4 linked regions of the Homo sapiens genome follow. The protein of the gene in region 4 purifies or fractionates together with the protein of the main gene of each other region. This does not show direct contact. Each region holds a gene or a part of one and is shown on either strand. Other genes may lie near its edges.

Region 1 (5,294 bases), on a different chromosome or scaffold from region 4:
CTCTGGCCATCATGTCTACACTGAGTTAGTAGGAAGGGAAGAGAGGGCAAAGGGGCAGTAGACACCCCCTGGCTTTAAGGGCATGATCCAGAAGTGACATTCATCACTGCTTACATTCCACAGAACTTAGCTGCAGGGGAGCCTGGAAATGTCATCTCTAGCTGGGTAGTTAAGTGCTTAGCTACAACTTGGGTGTTCTAAAAGATATCATGGACAGTTAGCAGTCTCTGTCATACACATAAAAGAAAATTGACCAGTGTGGTGGGGCACCTGTGCTGAGCCCCAGATGTGAGGGTCACGAGAGGAGGAAGGGGAGCAGTGCAGGAAACCCACCAGTACTGTTAAGAATGTGAGTTAGTTTGGTCTCAGCCCACTGTCTGGTGTTCAGTGACGACCCCAGGTTAGGGGTGTTGCTAAGAACACCCAGTGACTCAGTGGGGTTTTGGGCCAGTTGGGCAATGGGCCCCTCTCACTGGCTTCCAAGATCAGGCCCCTAAGCCCAGATTCCCAGAGTCAGGACTCTACTGTCGCCAGGTGGGGTCTGAGAGTGCACAGGGAGCACAGTCACTGCTGACAGAGCTGGTGCTGCGGCGGATCTCAGCCTCGTGCCAGCACCCGACAGCCTTCGAGGAAGCCATACCCAAGTCCTTCATGATCAGCGCAGACATGGCCCATGCTGTGCATCCCAACTACCTGTGAGTCTCTAGTGCCAGTCACACAGTCTTCACATAGCTGGAGACCCAAGCATAACCTGCCTTGAGGCTCTGCCTTGGCCCCAGCCTCTTCCTTTCTCCCTTCTTCATTCTGCCGGGAGGTTCACGGGCACTTCCTTTTCACTACTGCGAGACCAACTTGGTCAAAGTCATGCAATGCCTAACCCAGGTGTGTGGAATACACCTTTGTCTACAAACTTGTTTCCATCTATTGCTAGAGGCTGCCCGGAACCCTGTGTGTGGAATGACTCTGAAGTCCCACTGGGCTGGGCGGGAAAGAGTGGTGATCTATTAGTGATGTCTGCCATGGGAGGGTGGTGAGTGTCGACAGGCCTGCTCCTGTTTGCTATGTCTGGCCCTTATCTGTCTCTTACAGGGACAAGCATGAGGAGAACCACCGGCCTTTATTCCACAAGGTGAGACGTGCCATTTCTCCCTAGGGACTTGGAGGTCTGGCTGTTCCGAGCGCCGACTCATTCCCTTTGGGCCTGTCATTACCTCTGCCTCACCTTGACTCTCCCCAGGGCCCCGTGATCAAGGTGAACAGCAAGCAACGCTATGCTTCAAACGCGGTGTCAGAGGCCCTGATCCGAGAGGTGGCCAACAAAGTCAAGGTCCCCCTGCAGGTGAGGGTGGGCCCTGCCTGGGAAGGTGTGATGGAGGGAGCTTGGTGGGGGCACAAACAGATGGGCCCCCCATGAACAGGGAACCTGGTAGATGGCCTTGAGTGGAGGGGGGTCCCAGTAGAGTGAGAAAAGCAGGGATTTTGGATACAGCTGGATTCCATGCTGGCTCTGCTGCAGTGCTAGCTGTGTGACCTTGGACTAGTCTCCTAACCTTTCTGAGTCTCAGTTTCCACATCTGTAGAATAGGGGTGATAGTGATGCCTACTTTGCTGGATTTCTATGAAGACTGAAGGTACAGTGTGCTCCTGGCACATGGTAGGCCTGTCTTTCCCTGCAGCACCCCCACTTCCCCTGTGTCTCCTACACACCCTGGGGGCTTCCACAGGGAAAGTTCAGGGCTGGGGAGTATGGAACTCCAACTACTCATTTTCTCTCTTGCCTGAGAAATTAGACATCTAGTCCTTTCTCCTCAGTGTGTGTGTGTGTGTGTGTACATATATATGTTGTATACATGTATGTATATAACACATGACAGTATTGTGTATACACATATACACACATATATACTGTCATGCATTGCTTAACAACAGGGATACATTCTGGGAAATGGCATCATTAGGCAATTTTGTCATTGTGTGAGCATCATGGAGTATATGTACACAAACCTAGACGGACAGCCTGCTGCACACCTAGGTTGTGTGGTGTAGCCCATTGCTCCTAGGCTACAAACCTGTACGGCTTCTTACTGTGCTGAAAACTGTAGGTAACTGTAACAAAATGGTCAGTGTATCTAAACATAGAAAAGGTACAGAAGGCCAGGCGTGTTGGCTCACACCTGTAATCCCAGCATTTTGGGAGGCCAAGACAGGCAGATCACTTGAGGTCAGGAGTTCAAAACCAGCCTGGCCAACATGGTGAAACCCCATCCTACCAAAAAATACAAAAATTAGGCAGGCGGAGTGGTGCATGCCTGTAGTCCCAGCTACTTGGGAGGCCTTCCCTACTTGGGAAGGATCTCTTGAGCCCGGGAGGTGGACGTTGCAGTGAGCCGAGATCGTGCCATTGCACTCCAGCCTGGGCGACAGAGTGAGACCCTGTCTCCAAAAAAACAAAACCAAAAAAAAAAAAAAAAGAAAAGAAAAAGAAAAGTTACAGGAAGCATATGGTATAAAAGATTTAAAATGGTCCACCTGTATAGGGCACTTAGGAATGGAGCTTACGGCACTCGAAGTTGCCCTGGGTGAGTGGTGAGTTAATGTGAAGGCCTAGGACATTACTGTACACTATTGCAGACTTTATCAATGCCGGACACTTAGGCTACACTACATTTATTTTGAAAATTGTATTTCTTCAACAATAAATTAGTTTACTGTAACTTTTTAACTTTATTTATTTATTTATTTATTTATTTATTTTTGAGATGGAGTCTCACTCTGTCACCCAGGCTGGAGTGCAGTGGCACGATCTCGGCTCACTGCAACCTCTGCCTCCCAGGTTCAAGCGATTCTGCCTCAGCCTCCTGAATAGCTGGGATTACAGGCACGCACCACCATGCCTGGCTAATTTTTGTATTTTTAGTAGAGACGGGGTTTCACCATGTTGGTCAGGCTGGTCTCGAACTCCTGACCTTGTGATCCGCCCGCCTCGGCCTCCCAAAGTGTTGGGATTACAGGTGTGAGCCACTGCACCCGGCCAACTTTTTTACTTTATAACCTTCCATTTTTAAAATTTTTGACTCCTTTGTAACAACAGTTGGCTTAAAACACAAACACATAGTACAGCTATTCAAAAGTATTTTCTTTTTTGTATCCTTATTCTGTAAGCTTTTTTCTATTTTTAAAATTTTTCGTTATTTTTAAAATTTTTAAACTTTTTGGTTAAAAACCAAGACACAAACATACACATTAGCCTAGGCCTATACAGGGTCAGGATTATCAATGTCCCTGTCTTCCACCTCCACATCTTGTCTCACTGGAAGGTCTTCAGGGAGAGTGACATGCAGGGAGCTGCTATCTACCATGATAACAATGTGCTCCTAAAGGACCTGCCTGAGGCTGTTTTACAGTTAACTTTTTTTTTTTTTTCTAATAAGTAGGAGTACATTCTAAAATAACAGTAGGCTGGGCATCGTGGCTCATGCCTGTAATCCCAGCACTTTGGGAGGCCGAGGCGGGTGGATCACTTGAGGTCAGGAGTTCAAAACCAGCTGGCCAACATGGTGAAACCCCGTCTCTACTGAAAATACAAAAATTATCTGGGCATGGTGGTGTGCGCCTGTAATCCCAGCTACTCAGGAGGCTGAGACAGGAGAATCGCTTGAACCCAAGAGGCAGAGGTTGCAGGGAGCCAAGATGGTGCCATTGCACTCCAGCCTGGGCGACAAGAGTGAAACTCCATCTCAAAATAAATAAATAACAATAAAAAGCATAATATAGTAAACACATAAACCATAACATAGTCATTTATTATTCTTAGGTATTGCATACTGTACATAATTGCACGTGTTATGCTTTTATACGACTGGCAGTAGATTTATTTACGCCGGCATCGCCACAAACAAGTGAGTCATGCATTATGCCACAACATCGCAACAGCTGTGATGTCACTAGGCGACAGGAATTTTTCAGCTCCATTATAATCTTACGGGACCACTGTCATATGTAGTCTATCTTTGACTGAAATGTCACCATGTAGTGCATGACTGTCTATTTCTATATTTATCTGTCTACCTCTCTATATCAGGGACTCAGGCATGGGCGGTCCAGTGACAATCATAGCAGGTGTAGAACCGTGGTATCCTGACTCCCAGCCCAGGGCTCTTTCTGCTGCACAGTGTTCACTCTTCCTTTCGGAAAGCTGAATTGTTCTGCCCCCAGGAAGCCTTCTCTGAGGACGTGATATTTGAGCTGAGACCTAACCACTGAGAAATAGGCAGCTATGGGAGGGTCCCAGCCAGAGGGCACAAGTAGAAAGGCCCCAAGGGGGGCCAGGAATGAGCTCGTCTTTTAGGAGGAGAGAAAGGCAGGATGGTAGAGCCAGGATGAGAGCAGGAGAGGGTTAGGGGAGAGGCCCAGCTCAGTGATGATACAGGAATACCTAGGCCATGGAAGGACATTTCAATTTTATTCTAAGGCAGTGAGAAGACATTGGGAGATTTTTCTTTAATAATTTACAGCAGAAGTAGGACACATGTATTTTAGAAAATTAGAAAATACAGATAGAGATGAGAAAATAAAACACTAATCTGCAGAAATTTGGTATAGTCTTCCAGATTTTTTTCTATGCATAAACTTCATATACACTTTTTTAAAATGATATTATATTGGATATATTTTTGTTGCCTCTTTTCACTCAGTCATCTTCACCTTTCTATTTGAGTTTGGTTTTTTTTTTTAATGTTTTTTTAAAATTAGAAACAGGGTCTTGCTTTGTCTCCCAGGCTGGAGTGCAGTGGCATGATCATAGCTCACTGCACCCTCAAACTCCTGAGCTCAGAAGATCTTCCTGCCTCAGTCTCCCAAGTAGCTGGGACTACAGATGCATGCCACCATGCTGGCTAATTTTCTATTTTTAGTAAAAATGGGGTTCTTGCTATGTTGCCCAGGCTGGTCTTGAACTCCTGGCTTCAAGCAGTCCTCCCACCTTGGCCTCCCAAAGTGCTAGGATTACAGGCATGAGCCACCATTCCCAACCCCATTTCAGGAAATTGTTGTTTCAGTAAACTTGTACCTCATCTAATGCACAGATCACTTTCCGTTTTCCCCAGTTATCCTCAAAATATTTTTTTTACAGGTATTTGGCCCACCCTAGTATCCAACTCAGGACAATGCGTTATATTTGGCTGATATGTTGCTTAAATGTCTTCCAGTGTAGCACAGTTCCCCCCACCCCTTTTTAAATAGCATTGGCTTATTCAAGAAACTTCTGGATATGTCTCCTTGCTGCCCCATGGTGT
Region 2 (5,294 bases), on a different chromosome or scaffold from region 4:
AAAGGATATTTTAAATATTTTGACTACTTAGGATTTCTTGCCAGCATAAGTAAGACCTATTAGGAAGCACCAGTCTTCTAAACATTATCAGGACCTTGCTATTTTCTAATTTGCTTGACAATAACCTGTTTGCCCTCCATGAAATGCACAAGGTGTATTTGTACATTAGGACAAAAAGTCACAGAACTTAAATCAGTCTCCAAATAGTCTAGAGAAAGTATTTACATCATGCCATGCTCAGCACAATAGATGCTCATTTTTATCATTTTTTAAGTTTGCTACTAAATTTATTCATTGCATATTAATAAAAATGAACCAAAATATGAAATGCAAAATTCACAAATGGCTCCCATGGCAAAAAAATAGAATTATTAAATCATAATTCATTTTAAAGAGTATACCTAGACATTAGTTATAACTAATACTATCCCAATTACAATGCCCAACTTCAGCTGAAAAATACTTGGGTTAATCTCAAGTTTCAAATTATTCAAAATCACTACCAACAAAACCCAAAACTTGTAAATAAGTGGATAAATAAAGCCTATAAGCAGTACACCTACAGGGCTGATAGAAGGTCTGCATAAGTGTTTAAAAAAAAAAAAAAAAAAAAACGCGGTTGGATGCGGTGGCTCACGCCTGTAATCCCAGCACTTTGGGAGGTCAAGGTGGGTGGATCAGGAGTTTGAGACCAGCCTGGCGAACATGGTGAAACCCCGTCTCTACTAAAAATACAAAAAATTATCTGGGCGTGGTGGCAGGTGCCTGTAATCCCAGCTACCCAGGAGGCTGAGACAGGAGAATTGCTTGAACCCGGGAGGCAGAGGTTGCACTGAGCTGAGATCGCGCCAACGCACTCCAGCCTGGGCAACAAGAGCGAAACTCCATCTCAAGAAAAACAAACAAACACCAAAAAAAAAAACCCAAAAAGGCAGGGTCTAGTAGTTTCATTATAAACTGACTAAAAGCACAGAGAAGACTTTCATTAGACCCCAAAACTACCTCATTTATCTAATCACTCAACAACTATTCAATAGTACCTAAATGGTTTTACTTGTAATATTTAACCCCCACAATGAAAATATGATCATTAACCATGTTTTACAAATTAAAAGAATTAATAACATACTGCCTTCCAAGCCATCAAGGCATTACTACCTATTCTAAAAGAGACATATATTTATTTTAAAAGAGTTCCTATTCAATGAAGAAGAACACATACAAAAATCTCTTGGGGAATTAAAAACCAGGGACTTTAGTTTTATTCAATCTTAGCCCACTAAACTATAACACTATAGAATAGGCACATATCAAAAATATCCTGTTTAACTTTAAACTTAAGAATTTACTGGCCAGGCGCAGTGGCTCATGCCTGTAATCCCAGCACTTTGGGAGGCCGAGGAGGGTGGATCACGAGCTCAGAAGATCAAGACGATCCTGGCTAACACAGTGAAACCCCGTTTCTACTAAAAAATACAAAAAATTACCCAGGCGTGGTGTTGCGCGCCTGTAGTCCCAGCTACTCGGGAGGCTGAGGCAGAATGGTGTGAACCCCAGAGGGTGGAGGTTGCAATGAGCTGAGATCGTGCCACTGCACTCCAGCCTGGGCGACAGAGCAAGACTCCGTCTCAAAAAAAAAAAAAAAAAAAAAAAAAAAAGAATTTACTTTGGAAGCTAGAGTTAACACTAATTTTTAAAGTATTTTTTAGGTGGCTAATTTACAAAAAAAAAAAAAATTACAGAAACAAAACCCTCTCGACAATTGGACTACAGACAGTTGCTAAATGGGCTTTCTACTTGTATCCAGAAGGTAGGTAGGTAGGTAAGCTACATGACAGAAGTTGAATTTCTAGTTAACATGAAGGGTCAATAATATTCATATTGTCCACAACTGTCTGCAAAACACTGAATTACAGAAACAATACTACATAATTAAATTAAGAAATTTGATGATTGCGGTTGATGAAGGTCAGTTAACCTTAGGGATAGTATAAAACAATCTATTCAAAATCAGTATTTCTCAAATCCCATGTCTATATGATGTGGAGTAGGGAAGAATTTCTTAAAACAGAAAAAACATAAATCATAAAGAGAAAAGACAGATAAACCTGTCTTAAAATGGAAAGCCTTTGTAGTTTAAAAGACAACAATCAAAATCATGGTCCAGCTGGGCACATTGGCTCACACCTGTAATTCCAGCACTTTGGGAGGAGGCCAAGGCAGGCAGATCACCTGAGGTCAGGAGTTCAAGACCAGCCTGGCCAACATGGCAAAACCCCATCTCTACTAAAAATACAAAAATCAGCTGGGTGTGGTGGTGCAAGTCTGTAATCCCAGCTACTTGGGAAGCTGAGGTGGGAGAATCACTTGAACCTGGGAAGAGGAGGTTGCAGTGAGTCAAGATCATGTCACGGCATTCCAGCCTGGGTGACAGAGCGAGACTCCACCTTAAAAAAAAAAAAAAAGGTCCATCGCCCATCTGTACTGAAAGCAGCTGGACCTTTAAATAAAAAATGTAAAATCCTGGGCCCTACCCCAAATCCTGCAGTTGTTTAACCAATTTTTCAAGTAATTCCAACATGTTTTTAAGTATAAAATCCATGTTTTAAAATAAATTTATATTGAAATATAGTTGTGAAAGTTGACTCAATAATCCTTTTGTGTGCCACACATTTATTGATGATCTACTTAAATATGTATTCACAGTCTAGCTATTACTGATGTATGGTCACTTCTAACTCCCAGGTTCAAATTAGAACTGGGCTACAGAAGAAAACAATGATCCTTTATTTATTTCAAAGTCAAGTACAAACATTATTAAGTTATTCCAGATTATCCAAATCAAGGTTCTCTCCTAGCAGTAAAAGTAATCAATACCTATGTGGGTGAAAAAACAGGCATATACTAAATATATCCTTTTTCATTGTAAACTTAAAATTTACTTAGAAGGCTACAGCTAACACTGTTTTCTAAAGTATTATTTTTAAAGTGGCTAATTTAACTTAAAAAACAAAAAAACAGAAACAAAAATCCTCTCACAGGGCCATGATCTTTAAAAAATAACCTTACAAATCTCTGGGATACATAAACATACATATGTCATGAAATGACCTAAGTTTGAAAAGAACCACATTACCTCTCTCATTTCCTAAACTTCTTACTGTATAAAAATTTTCTTTCTTTTTTTTTTTTAGAAGATTCTTTTCTCTCTTTTTCTTTCTTTCTGGTAGAAGGAAAACTAAATTTTCAGAATTGTCTGTAGACAATCTTCACCAAGATTTAAACTTTTATTTTAGGCAGAAACACAGACCTGGAAGAAGCCTTGAAAAGTCACAGGGTTCAGCACTAAGGCAAGCTCACAGGTAAAGCCTATGAAAATGGTAGGTTAAAATTTTTTTTCTTAAAAAAGTATTAACATTGGCCGGATGCGGTGGCTCGTGCCTGTAATCCCAGCACTTTGGGAGGCCGAGGTGGGTGGATCACGAGGTCAGAAATTCGAGACCAGTCTGGCCAACATGGTGAAACCCCATCTCTACTAAAACTACATGGTGACGGGCGCCTGTAATACCAGCTACTTGGGAGGCTAAGGCAGGTGAATCACTTGAACTCGGGAGGCAGGGTTTGCAGTGAGCCGAGATCGCGCCACCGCACTCTAGCCTGGGTGACAGAGTGAGACTCCATCTCAAAAAAAAAAAAAAAAAAGTATTAACATTAAAACATTGTTATAACACTTAACTTGGTTTGGTAGTTTTTTTTTTTTTTCTTTTTTTGAGACAGCCTCTCGCTCTGTCACCCAGGCTGGAGTGCAGTGGCAATCTCAGCTTACTGCAATCTCCACCTCCCAGGTTCAAGTGATTCTCCTGCCTCAGCCTCCCGAGTAGCTGGGACTACCACACCTGGCTAATTTTCATATTTTTAGTAGAGACGGGGTTTCGCCATGTTGGCCAGGGTGGTCTCAAACTCCTGACCTCAGGTGATCTGCCTGCCTTGGCCTCCCAAAGTGCGGAGATTACAGGCATGAGCCACCACGCCCAGCTAGGTTTGGTAGTCTATAATTTTACCGGCTATCAACAATTCTCTCATATCTATTTGTTTTAATTGAAAGCATTTCTGCTCAATCTCTGCAGACAGAAAAGAAATAGTACACTATTCTTTATATAAATTGTTAATAACTGACAACAACAAATTGAGTCTTCCCTTGCCTTTCTTTAGACAAAACAACTCTAATTCCTTTAGCTTTTCCCTTAGGAGGTAAAAGACAACTTTTCTGGTGAGTTTTTATTTCCTACTCCATAATTTGTCTTTTCTATTTTTACTCACCAAGTTCTTTTTCTTTGTTTTTTAAAGGTGTCTACTTCCCTTTATTCTTAATTTACTCCAAGTTCTAAAGCACCAATCTCAATGTTTCTGTTTGTTAATTTTTTGTAACTCCCAACTGTCCTAAGAGGATTCAGACCTTATTCTCTACTCCTAGAATTCTTTGTTAACCATTTCCACCTGCCCAAGTTCACTTCTACATGCCAGAGAACCTGGTATTCTTTTACAGAATTGCACAGGGATTCTAAGACCAAGGAATCCTCCAAAGCATGTATCGTTATTTGATACATGTTATTTATTCCAGATTCCAAAAGTATTCCACTAACCTCCCCTCTCCCCACAAAATAAATTCATTAAAATATAGCTATCTACCAAGAGTATCACAGCAAAAGATACAGCTGTTTACCCATTAAAAGATAAAGACACAGGGCTGGATGCAGTGGCTCACACGAGTAATCCCAGCATTTTGGGAGGCTGAGGCAGGAGTATCACTTGAGCCCAGGAGTTTGAGACCAGACTGAGCAACAGAGTGAGACCCCATCTCTACAAAAAATTTTAAAACTGCCAGACACAGTGGCTCACACTTGTAATCCGAACACTTTGGGAGGCCGAGGCGGGTGGATCGTTTGAGATCAGGAGTTTGAGACCAGCCTGACCAACACGGTGAAACCCTGTCTCTACTAAAAACACAAAAAAATTAGCTGGGTGTGGTAGCACATGCCTGTAATCCCAGCTACTTGGGAGGCTAAGGCAGGAGAATCGCTTGAATCCGGGAGACAGAGATTGCAGTGAGCCAAGATCATGCCACTGCATTCTAGCCTGGGCGAAAGAGTGAGACTCCATCTCAAAAAAAAAAAAAAAAAAAGCCAGCCATGGTGGCTCACGCCTGTATGCCAGCTACTCAGGAAACTGAGGTGACCCCAGGAGTTTGAGGCTGCAGTGAGCCATGACTACACCACTGCACTCCAGCCCAGGCA
Region 3 (5,294 bases), on a different chromosome or scaffold from region 4:
CTCGAACTCCTGAGTTGAGGCAATCCACCTGCCTTGGCCTCCCAAAGTGCTGGGATTACAGGCATGAGCCACCACGCCCAGCCTTGCTTTCAGTTCTTTTGGGCATAAATCTGTGAGTGGAATTGGTGAGTTTTATGGTAATTCTAAATTTAACTTATTGAGGAACCACCAAACTGTTTTCCACAGTGGCTGCACATTTTACATTCCCACCAGCAATGTATAAATGTTCTGATTTCTCCACATCCTCACCAACACTTGTTTTTTTTTGTTTGTTTTGTTTTTGTTTTTTTTTAAGATTATGGCCATCTTAGCAGGTATGAAATGGCGTATCATGATGGTTTTACTGATGTTAAGCATCTTTTCATGTGCTTCTTAGCCATTTGGATATCTTCTTTAGAGAAATATCTATTAGATTTAGTTGCCTATTTTTTAAATGTACAATTTTAAAAATATTTCATAGCTCAAATATTTTAAAACATGTGCATAGCAGATACTTCTTTTCCCTGTGGTAGTAATAATGAAGAAGGCTTTTTAATCAAGCAGTTGATCAAACTACTATGGAAACAGATTAAAAGCTCAAAGATCCCTTGGTAGGCAGGTAGTTTTAAATTGCCCACAGTATTGACTCTAAGTCAGTATAATAGAGAAATGTATTTGAATAAGGGGAATAAAGGAAATTACGTTTTAAATAACTTTTGAGTATAAACCTAAACCAAAAAATTGGCCTATAAAAGGTATTTTTTTTAGATACATGAATTTACCTAATTTATTCATTCACCAAGTATGAATGGGGAATGAAGTACTGGGAGCAGAATCTTAAAATATTTAAATAAATTTTTATGTGGTTGATGCCTGCCTGCCTGCTTGCCTTCTTTCTTTTCTTTTTCTTTTTCTTCTTTTCTTTTCTTCTTGCCATAACTTTTCCATCATATCACGTGTACATCAAGCAATGTAAAAATTACTGTTGAATTTACTGGATAAATATCTACTTTTCTGTATTTCAGAGACTATAATTTAGTGTTTTATTCCTTGCATTATAAAATTGACAGGGTATTTACTCCATGTGTATTTTTCAGAAGTCTTTATATTAATGACTACATGAAGATCTGCCTGATTAAGAAATACTTTTCTTGGATAGAGGGGTAATAGAACTGTGTGCTAGCCTGGTTGTTTTTCCTTGCACCATCTCATCAATTACTCTGGTTTTTTTCTTCATGTCTTCATAGCCTCTTCCCGAGAAGTTTGTGGTAAAAGGTGTTGTGGATCGTTTTTCAGAAGAGTTTGTGGAGACCAGAAGAAAAGCTTTGGATAAATTTCTAAAAAGAATTACGGACCATCCTGTGCTGTCTTTCAATGAACACTTTAATATTTTCCTTACTGCTAAGGTAAGGGCAGAAATTTACATCCTCTTCGTCCATATTACCATTCTTGGGGCTCTTTCCTAAAAGCTGTTTTGAGCAGGACTCGGTCTCTACAAAAACTTTTAACAAATAGCCGAGTGTGATGTTGTGCGCCTGTAGTCCCAGCTACCTGGGAGGCTAAGGCAGGAGGTAGCTTGAGCCCAGGAGTTTGAGGCTTCAGTGAGCTATGATCGTGCCACTGCACTGCAGCCTGGGTGACAGAGTGAGACCCTATCTCTTTAAAAAAAAAAAAAAAAAAAGCGGTTTTGATCTTTCAGAAGCCACCTTCATGAGCAAATGGTTCACTGTAACAGGGTTGTCATAAAATTGGTCTTTTTTTGGGTGCCTGTGTCCATTAGCATGCTTTTTTGCATTAGCAAATCCATATAGATGGATTCTATGTTAGAATTTAGGAGATCTGTCCCCACCCCATCCGGGGCCCCACCCACTTGCAGCAGCAGAGGAAGTTAGAATATTTGCTCTGCCAAAAGCAGAGCTAAGTGTTTCCTTAAACACTTGGCAGTATTACTGGGTGAGGCCAGTCTGACCAACAATGGGCATGGAACAGAAGGAACATTTGAGTGTTTGGTGAGGGTTTTCTTCTTAAGGGCGCTTTGAGTGATTACTTGCAGCTGCATTTTACAGACAAGGAAACTCAAGTTCCAGGAGCTTGTCCTTGTTCAGGTAGCGTCACTAGGATCTCAAATTAGGTCTTTGTGGCTACTGAGGCCACACCGTCCCTGTGTATCAGACTGCCTGATTGTTACTTAACCTGCAACCATGTTCCTGTCAGGTGGACATTTGCCAGATAAAACATTTGGGTCCTACACAGTTGCCAGATTCTGTGTATTCAAACTCAAGTTGGTTGTCCACTGGCCTTTCTCTGCACTTCCCTGTTGGCAGAACTGGCCAGAAAACCTGAGGTGCTGTGCTCTCGCTGTCTGCAGAAATGGGGTCACATGCTCAGACCCTCCTGCTAGCTTCCCTCTAGTCCCATCTGTTTGGTTTCAGGTATCATATTCCCATGTTCAGGCCATATGTAACATGTTCCATGTTGGCAAGGGTATTGTGGTCCAGATACTTTCTAGTTTTTCAAATCTGCAAAATTGGGAAATAGCTATAGATAACATTAGGTGACATTAAAGACTTCGGAGAGTGTGCCGTTCTTCACTCAGTGGAAGCCGCATGACAGAGTCCTTTAGTTTTTATAACCTCAGTTGGCATTGAGCCTTATTGATGACATTCCAGTTCAGCATCTCTTTTTCCCAGAGGCTTTCCCCCCCTACAGGTTGGACAGGTACACTTTTTAAAACTAAGTATTTCCTGGCAAACTAAACCTCAGGTATAATTCCTTCAACTCATACTCAAAGTAGAATACATCCTATTCTCCAAAAGCACAACTCACTTTCTCCCCCAAGGTCCATTTTCCAGAAAGCCCTTAAGCACATTCATGTTTACTGAACAAAAAAGAAAAGGGAGGGAAAAGCTTGGACCCCTGGTTGTTAGGAATCTGTATGAAGAATAAGTAGGAAAGAGAGAGAGAGAGAGAGAGAGAGAGAGAGTGTGTGTGTGTGTGTGTGTGTGTGTGTGTGTGTGTGAGAGAGAGAGAGAGAGGAGATTTATCTATCTGTGGGCCAGGCAGTATGAAAATGACTTAAAAAATATAAGGTCCTTATATGAGAACACATGGACACAGGAAGGGGAACATCACACGCCGGGGACTGTTGTGGGGTTGGGGGAGGGGGGAGGGATAGCATTAGGAGATATACCTAATGCTAAATGACGAGTTAATGGGTGCAGCACACCAACATGGCACATGTATACACATGTAACAAATCTGCACGTTGTGCACATGTACCCTAAAACTTAAAGTATAATAATAAAAAATTTAAAAAAAATTAGAAAAAATATATATTATATATTAATATATAATAAATATATTAATATATAATATATAATAAATATAATATATATAAAATATCTATATATATAAGGTCCTTTACTGCCTTAATCAAAATCCGACTCCATATGAGTGAATACAGGAGAGGTGGCTTTAAACAGAACAAATTTTAGCCCTAATTCAGTATCGCTTGCTGAACAAAATGTGCTAAATGGCCTTATCTTTTCTTTAAAAATTTTTAAAATTGTGATAAAATACACCTAACATTTACTATCCTAACAATTTCTAAGTGTACAGTTCAGTAGTGTTAAGTATATTTAAATTAGTTATGCAGCTCATCTTCAGAACGTTTGCATCTTGCAGATCTGAAACTCTATGCCCATTAAATGGCAGCACCCTATTCCCCCTCTTCCAGCTGCCTCATTTTTTCCTTTAACATACCTTGAATAACTTGATCTTGTTCTGAGATGAGCCACTTACGTGTTCTGCCTTAGGGAATGCAGAGACGCTCTTCCTTTTCTTTGTGATCACATGAGTTTATCAACAAATTAGAAATGTCCTTAAGAAGAAGCCAAAAGGCTGTATGTAATGGCTCATGCCTGTAACACCCAGCGCTTTGGGAGGCCAAAGCAGGTAGACCACCTGAGCCCAGGAGTTCATGTTCAGTCTGGGCAACATGGTGAGACCCCATCTCTATATATTAAAAAGAAGCAGCAGCAGCAGCCAGTAGTAATACTGGGAGAAATGGGGACGCTCAATAGCAACTATATTCAAGTCAATATTTTCATCTTTGGCAGAGTGGGTACAGCAATCAGATGGATACTGCTGAATAACTTTATTCAACATGTAAATTAACTTGGTTAACGGGGACACGCTTTCAAAGCTCTACTTGAAGCGGAGCCTGTGCAGTCCAGCGAGCCCATTTGACTCTAGTCCCACTCGTAAAAACGCTGTCTGCAGAGGTAATTCCAAGAACTCTGAGGCTTCAGTTATAGTCTTGTGAAGGCCTTGTGCCTTTGAGGATGTTTCTTGTCTAGAATGTGGGAGGTCAGAAGGGGAGATGGAATCTTTAGGACACTCTCTCAGGCAGCCTGACTCTGAAGGAAACGAGAGAGGTGGAGAGGAACTAGAGGAGATTGCTGCTGTTTTTAAGATGGGTCAGCCTTGGGTGTATTTTACATGCTGAAGGATTAGAAGTTGAAGATACAGACAGGAGAGGGGATAATTGGTAGGGCAAGGCCCTCGGTTGGGGGAAGGTATGGATAGGTGTTCCAGAAAAACTCTCAAACCATGGTTTTCCTCTGCTCTCAGGCAACAACAGTTGTCATCAACACAGGAGAAGACTTCTGTGACCAAATTGCGGGGTGGGGGTGGGGGCGAGATTTTCCCCAAACACCAAGCAGCCATTGCCAGCTGGATGTCCACCAGTTTAATTTGCACATTATTTGCCTGGACATAGCATCAGATCCCACAGGTTGAGGACTCAGTCCTCAAGTCTGAGAGCTTCCAGATCTCGGACCTTAAGTTCAAGCCTCCAAAACTTCTGACCAGCCAGCTTCAAGTTGGGCTTCCCGTGACCTCTTCTTTGGGTTCCATTAATTTGCTAGAGCAATTCACAGAACTCAGAGAAACACATTTACCAGTTTATTATAAATGATATCACAAAGGATACAGATGAAGAGTTGCATTGGGCGAGGCGTGGGGGAAGGGGCGTGGAACTTCCATGCCCTCCCTGGGTGTAGCACCCTTCAGGAAACTCCACATGTTCAGCTCTCCAGAAGTTCTCTAAACCCAGCTCTCTTGGGTTTTTGTGGAAGCTTCGTGACAGCAGCATTCCATCCTCCAGGGTGTAGGGAGGGACCTTAGTCAGAAAGGCTGGGGAAGATTCGAGTCCTGCCTTGGGGCAGGTGAAAGGAGGGCAGGGGAAGGACAGAGAGATTCTGTTTCCTGAGGCTTAACACACCCAACATTATAGTGAAAAGACTGGAACAAGG
Region 4 (5,294 bases):
TTTATATTGTGATCAGTTTATACAAATAGGAATATATATATAATGGAAACCAAAGTTTCGTGAAATACCCTTACTATGTGTGACATACTCTGTTATTTTTTATTCTCTTCTCAATTTTAACTTTAAAAAAAAAAGGTGCTTGCAACCAACTAGATTGATTCATAATCCACTGGTGGGTGACAACCTGTACGTTGACCCCTGGTGAAGACGAGTGGGCATTCTTCTTCCAGGAAGTCCTCTATCTCTAGTTTCAGCCCGTTGTGTGACAGATCCCTGCTGCCTCTCAAAAACCAGATAGCATTTCAAATTCAACAAAGCACTTTCCCGGACACGATGCATTTGACTCTAATCGGGGGCACTTTTTTTTTTTAATAGAGGGAGTCTCGCTCTGTCACCCAGGCTGGAGTACAGTGGCGCGATCTCAGCTCACTGCAACCTCCACCTCCCGGGTTCAAGCGATTCTCCTGCCTCAGCCTCCCTAGTAGCTGGGATTATATTTTAAGGGAAGGAAACTGAAGTTCACAGAGGTCATGACTTGCCCTGTCTGTTTAGTTACAATCATTGGTGAAACTGAGACTCATGCCCAGATCTGTCTCATTCCAGAGCCCACATTTTTCCCAGCATGTCACACCGCCTTCCCCAATGGCCAGGTCCAAAGCTAAACCTGGGCTTTGCCACAGAACTGTAGGACCCTGTTTCAGGGGCTGCCAGTTTCTCCAGCGCAGCTGTAATCCCATTTCAAGGCAGTGCACCTTTATTAAACACTGCAGAGAGGAATAGGGCATGACCCTTCCCTCTCAAGAAGCTGCAAGCTGTTGATAGAAATGGACCTATATACAATGAAGTGTAAGATGGGGCAGACCGTGGTATGTGCATTAATACAGATGCCCACAGAGCACTGTGGGAGCACATAGAGGGAACAATCCAGGAAGGCTTCATGAAGGCTGCACTTGAGCTGCGCTTCAAAGGATCTACAGGATTTCAATAGGAAGGAAGAGAGAAGGAGGGAAACATTGCAAACCAAGGAAATAACCTAAGTAAAGACTTGAGGACATAAAAGTTGGGAGGATGACGAAGGCTATAAAATATTTTACATAGCAGGGCAGGGTCTAAATTATATCCAGTGTAGATGCTGAGTTGCCAAGTCCTGGGAGGCATCGTGAGTGTTGTGGAAGTTTAGGAGGCATTAGGAGAACAGTGAGAAACAGTGGAAGGTCTGAGAAGACTCAGCAGCCAGGTCCTGGGTCCCTGTTGAGCCTGAGGACTCCCTTGCCTACAGAAGGATCCCCGGCTGGGAGCCTTTGACCTATTGCAGATCTATACAGGGCTTGATTTGGTTCTCTTCCTGGCTCCACAGGGGATTCTGTCATCCAGAATGCATCCAACAGCGGAGTGGGGCAAGCAGTCATCCAGATCGCCGCAGCCCTGGGCCTAAGAACCATCAATGTGGTCCGAGACAGGTGCGTGGGGAAGGAGGCTTCATCCCAGACCATGTCTTGGGTCTTTCCCACCTCCCATCCCTGCGGTGCCCAGTTGTCCACCAGAGGGCGCCCTTGCATAAGCATAAACTGGCTTTAGGCATCGCTAACAGTTGGCGGCTGAAACAGATGAGTCAGTCCTAAGAAATGAAGTCCAGCTGGCTTTTGGCGATAGGATGAGTGAATCTGACATGTAAAGAGAGGGCAGGAAGGAGGTGGAGACTGCCCTTACTGAATAGCTAAGACTTTCTGAGACTCTTGGCTTGTGATAACCTCATGTTTTCAAAACCCCAGTTGATATTTGGGAATGATTTGAGCTGTATTATTCTTTCTGTGAACTGTCTAACCCAAGGCCCCTTTACCCTTGCTTTTGTGTGGTACTTGGAAGTGCGCTAAATACAGACGTGAAGGAGACAGGGGCAGGTTTGTCATCTGTCTTTTACAGATGAGGAAACTGAAGTTTCAGGGAGCAGCTTGCCCTGGAAGACACAGCAAGTCAGTAATAGACTCGGTTTCCTCACTTACTCTCTTTCCATCATATCGTCCAGTTTCTCTAGGCCTCACTGTCCATGAATGTGGCTGTGGCTGTCATGGAAGCCCACTCTTAGTATAATCGACACCAGCTTCAGTTCCTCAGTTGTACTCGCAAAAATAATTCCATTTGCCTTAACCAAAGAGACCCAGAGCCACTCCTGGTCTAGACTGTGTATGTCCAACACTCTGAAGAACCACTTGAAAAGAGGGGGGAAGTGGAGTTTGTCCTTTCAGTAGAAGAAATCAGGAAGTTAAGTGACTTCTCCCTGGGCACAGATGGCTTCTAACACTATTGAGCTGTCAGGGCCTGTGAAAACCACCCAGTCTCACTCTGTTGCCAGTGAGGAGACAGCCAAGAGCTATTGAAGCTGCATGAAATTAGGTGGCTGGTCCCTGCTCAAGCCTGGCTTAAACCTAATCCCAGCTTCCTGCAAAAAGAAGCACGGGTTCTCCCAGCTGTGGCAGAGAGGTCCTGGGGGGCTTTGGTGGAAAAAGCTGGCAGATGTGACCAGGGACCTATGTTTGGTTTCCAGACCTGATATCCAGAAGCTGAGTGACAGACTGAAGAGTCTGGGGGCTGAGCATGTCATCACAGAAGAGGAGCTAAGAAGGCCCGAAATGAAAAACTTCTTTAAGGTACCTAGGAAGAGGGACATTGCCCCTCCAGTCCACGCACATCTCCCTGAAGAAAGTTGACATGCATTAGAGAAACTGGGGACTGGCCCCATTGTTCCTCTCTGGAAACCTCCCTTTGCCTCTTGGTTGGTTAAAGCCCATTCCCCCTAGCCAGGCGGCAGGCAGCACGCATTAAGTGCCCAGATGCTGGGAGGGAGGCATGAGAAACAGAGTTTAGGAAACCCAGTATGACTTGCAGTTTAAACGTTTGTGGTGGGCCGCATCAGCCCACATGTGTGACTCTTAGAACTGGCAGGAGAGGACCTGAGGAAACAGAGACACAGAAAGAGAAAGAAAAGAAGTAACCTTTCCCAACCACCTGCCTTACATTTTATCTGATGATTTCCACAAAAGCTTTTCAAAGGAACTGTTATCTGTTTTACAGATTAGGAAACTAAGACTCAGAAAAGAGGAAATGCTTAACCAAAATCATATAGTTTATAAGGGCTCCAGAGAGTCAGAGCTGGCCTCAGTCTCTCCGAACTCAAAGCCTCTTAACCTTCCAGAACCTCCACCCCACAACATGCCTAGTAAGTGACCAGACCCTCAGCCCCTTTTCACTGAACCATCTGGAGGAACCAAAGACACACACTCAAGAGCATGCGCTTCTTGCGAACATTTCTGAAGCAGTAGATCAGCATATATAATATCAGCTGAGTCAAAGAACTGAAAAGGGGGGCACACAGGGAGCTGAAACCCACCAAACTGCATGCAGATGCCCTTTGCCTATTCTTTCCCAGAGAAGATGAGTTCTGCCAGGTCCTAAAATGGACAACAGGATTAAGTTGCTACAGAAAAGGCCCTTCTTGGCTGGATGAGGTGACTCATGCCTGTAATCCCAGCACTTCGGGAGGCCAAGGCAGGCGGATTGCTTGAGTCTGAGAGTTTGAGACTAGCCTGAGCAACATAGTGAGACCTCTGTCTCTACAAAAAAACATTTTTTTTTAATTATCTGGTCATCATGATACTCATCTGCAGTCCCAGCTACTTGGGAGGCTGAGGTGGGAGGATTGCTTGAGCCCAGGAGGGTAAGGTAGCAGTGAGCCATGATTGCACCACTGCACTCCAGCCTGGGTAACAGAGCGAGACCCTGTCTTAGAAAGAAAAAGAAAAAAGAAAGAAAAGACACTTCCTAAGCAGAGAAAAAGGTGAGTTCAAAGGCATAAACACACACACATATACATAAGTACGTGCACGCAAACAAAGGCATAAACATCTCATTTACTCCCTCCTTTTAACACAGCACTTGGGCAAGCTTCAGACCCCATATGTAGAGCGGGGATGCTCCCTCACTGCACTTTTGTTGTTTTCCAGGACATGCCCCAGCCACGGCTTGCTCTCAACTGTGTTGGTGGGAAAAGCTCCACAGAGCTGCTGCGGCAGTTAGCGTAAGTCCCTTGGGCCTGCAGGTCCAGCTCGCCAGAGCTCTCCAGGTCTTTAGCTGGGAGGACCATCAAGTGACTGAGTCCCATCGCCAGTTCGAGCCAAGTCCAGGTCAGCACAATGTTGAGTGGAAACTAGGACCAAAGTCATCCAGCTATTTGGGCACTGGTTTCTCAGCCTTCCCCTTTGCAGATGACCAAAATTTTGGCCTATCCAGCTTTATTTTTCCAAGGGACCCCAGAAGTAGACTGCTAAGCTGCCTGCCATAGAGGAATAGTCAAGGATTTATAACCTAGGGATGTCTGAAAAAGTCACTTAGTCCTAACTTATTTAACCTTTCAAAATTTGTATTAGCTTTTAAAATAGATTCTAATTTTAAAGGTAACATTATGCTTATTACAAAACATTTTGAAAACATGTAAAAGTGCAAAGGAAAACTTAAGCATAAAAGTTTCCTGTTGGCTGGGCACTGTGGCTCATGCCTATAATCCCAGTAATTTGGGAGGCCAAGGAGGAAGCATCACTTGAGGCCAGGAGTTCGAGACCAGCCTGGGTAACATAGTGAGACCCCATCACTACAAAAAAAAAAATTAATTTTTTTTTTAAGTTACCTGGCCAGGCATAGTGGTTCATGCTTGTAATCCCAACAAGACAGGCAGATCACTTGAGGCCAGGAGTTTAAGACCAGCCTGGCCAACATGGCAAAACTCCATCTCTACTAAAAATACAAAAAGACTAGCCAGGTGTGGTGGCAGGCACCTGTAATCCCAGCTACTTGGGAGGCTGAGTCACGAGAATCATTTGAATCCAGGAGGTGGAGGTTGCAGTGAGCCGAGATCACACCACTCTACTCCAGCCTGGGTGACAAAGGGAGATTCCATCTCAAAAAAGAAAAAAAAAAGTTACCTATCACCCCACTACCAAGGGGGATAAGCCCTGTTGACAATATTAATGCATGTCCTTCCATTCTTCTTTCCCTTAATATAAGCTTCTAGGCCGGGCGCAGTGGCTCAAGCCTATAATCCCAGCACTTTGGGAGGCTGAGGCGGGCAGATCACGAGATCAGGAGATCGAGACCATCCTGGCTAACACGGTGAAACCCCGTGTCTACTAAAAATACAAAAAATTAGCCAGGTGTGGTGGCGGGCACCTGTAGTCCCAGCTGCTCAGGAGTCTGAGGCAGGAGAATGGCGTGAACCCCGGAGGCAGAGCTTGCGGTGGGCC

What was found.
Region 1: the proteins of MECR (region 4) and DNPEP fractionate together in Homo sapiens (co-fractionation; one large-scale study listed by BioGRID). This does not show direct contact.
Region 2: the proteins of MECR (region 4) and SNX4 purify together in Homo sapiens (affinity purification with mass spectrometry; one large-scale study listed by BioGRID and IntAct). This does not show direct contact.
Region 3: the proteins of MECR (region 4) and SNX30 purify together in Homo sapiens (affinity purification with mass spectrometry; one large-scale study listed by BioGRID and IntAct). This does not show direct contact.

The regions. Positions count from the first base shown.
Region 1 is NC_000002.12:219,377,380-219,382,673, reverse strand, and holds part of DNPEP (aspartyl aminopeptidase), read left to right. Parts: intron 1-534; coding exon 535-695; intron 696-1,089; coding exon 1,090-1,129; intron 1,130-1,237; coding exon 1,238-1,339; intron 1,340-5,294.
Region 2 is NC_000003.12:125,499,170-125,504,463, forward strand, and holds part of SNX4 (sorting nexin-4), read right to left. Parts: intron 1-5,294. UniProt on the Homo sapiens protein: Involved in the regulation of endocytosis and in several stages of intracellular trafficking. Plays a role in recycling endocytosed transferrin receptor and prevent its degradation.
Region 3 is NC_000009.12:112,829,499-112,834,792, forward strand, and holds part of SNX30 (sorting nexin-30), read left to right. Parts: intron 1-1,226; coding exon 1,227-1,385; intron 1,386-5,294. UniProt on the Homo sapiens protein: Involved in the regulation of endocytosis and in several stages of intracellular trafficking. Together with SNX4, involved in autophagosome assembly.
Region 4 is NC_000001.11:29,199,297-29,204,590, reverse strand, and holds part of MECR (enoyl-[acyl-carrier-protein] reductase, mitochondrial), read left to right. Parts: intron 1-1,357; coding exon 1,358-1,460; intron 1,461-2,545; coding exon 2,546-2,648; intron 2,649-3,072; coding exon of another isoform or gene 3,073-3,217; intron 3,218-4,001; coding exon 4,002-4,075; exon of another isoform or gene 4,076-4,181; intron 4,182-5,294. UniProt on the Homo sapiens protein: Catalyzes the NADPH-dependent reduction of trans-2-enoyl thioesters in mitochondrial fatty acid synthesis (fatty acid synthesis type II).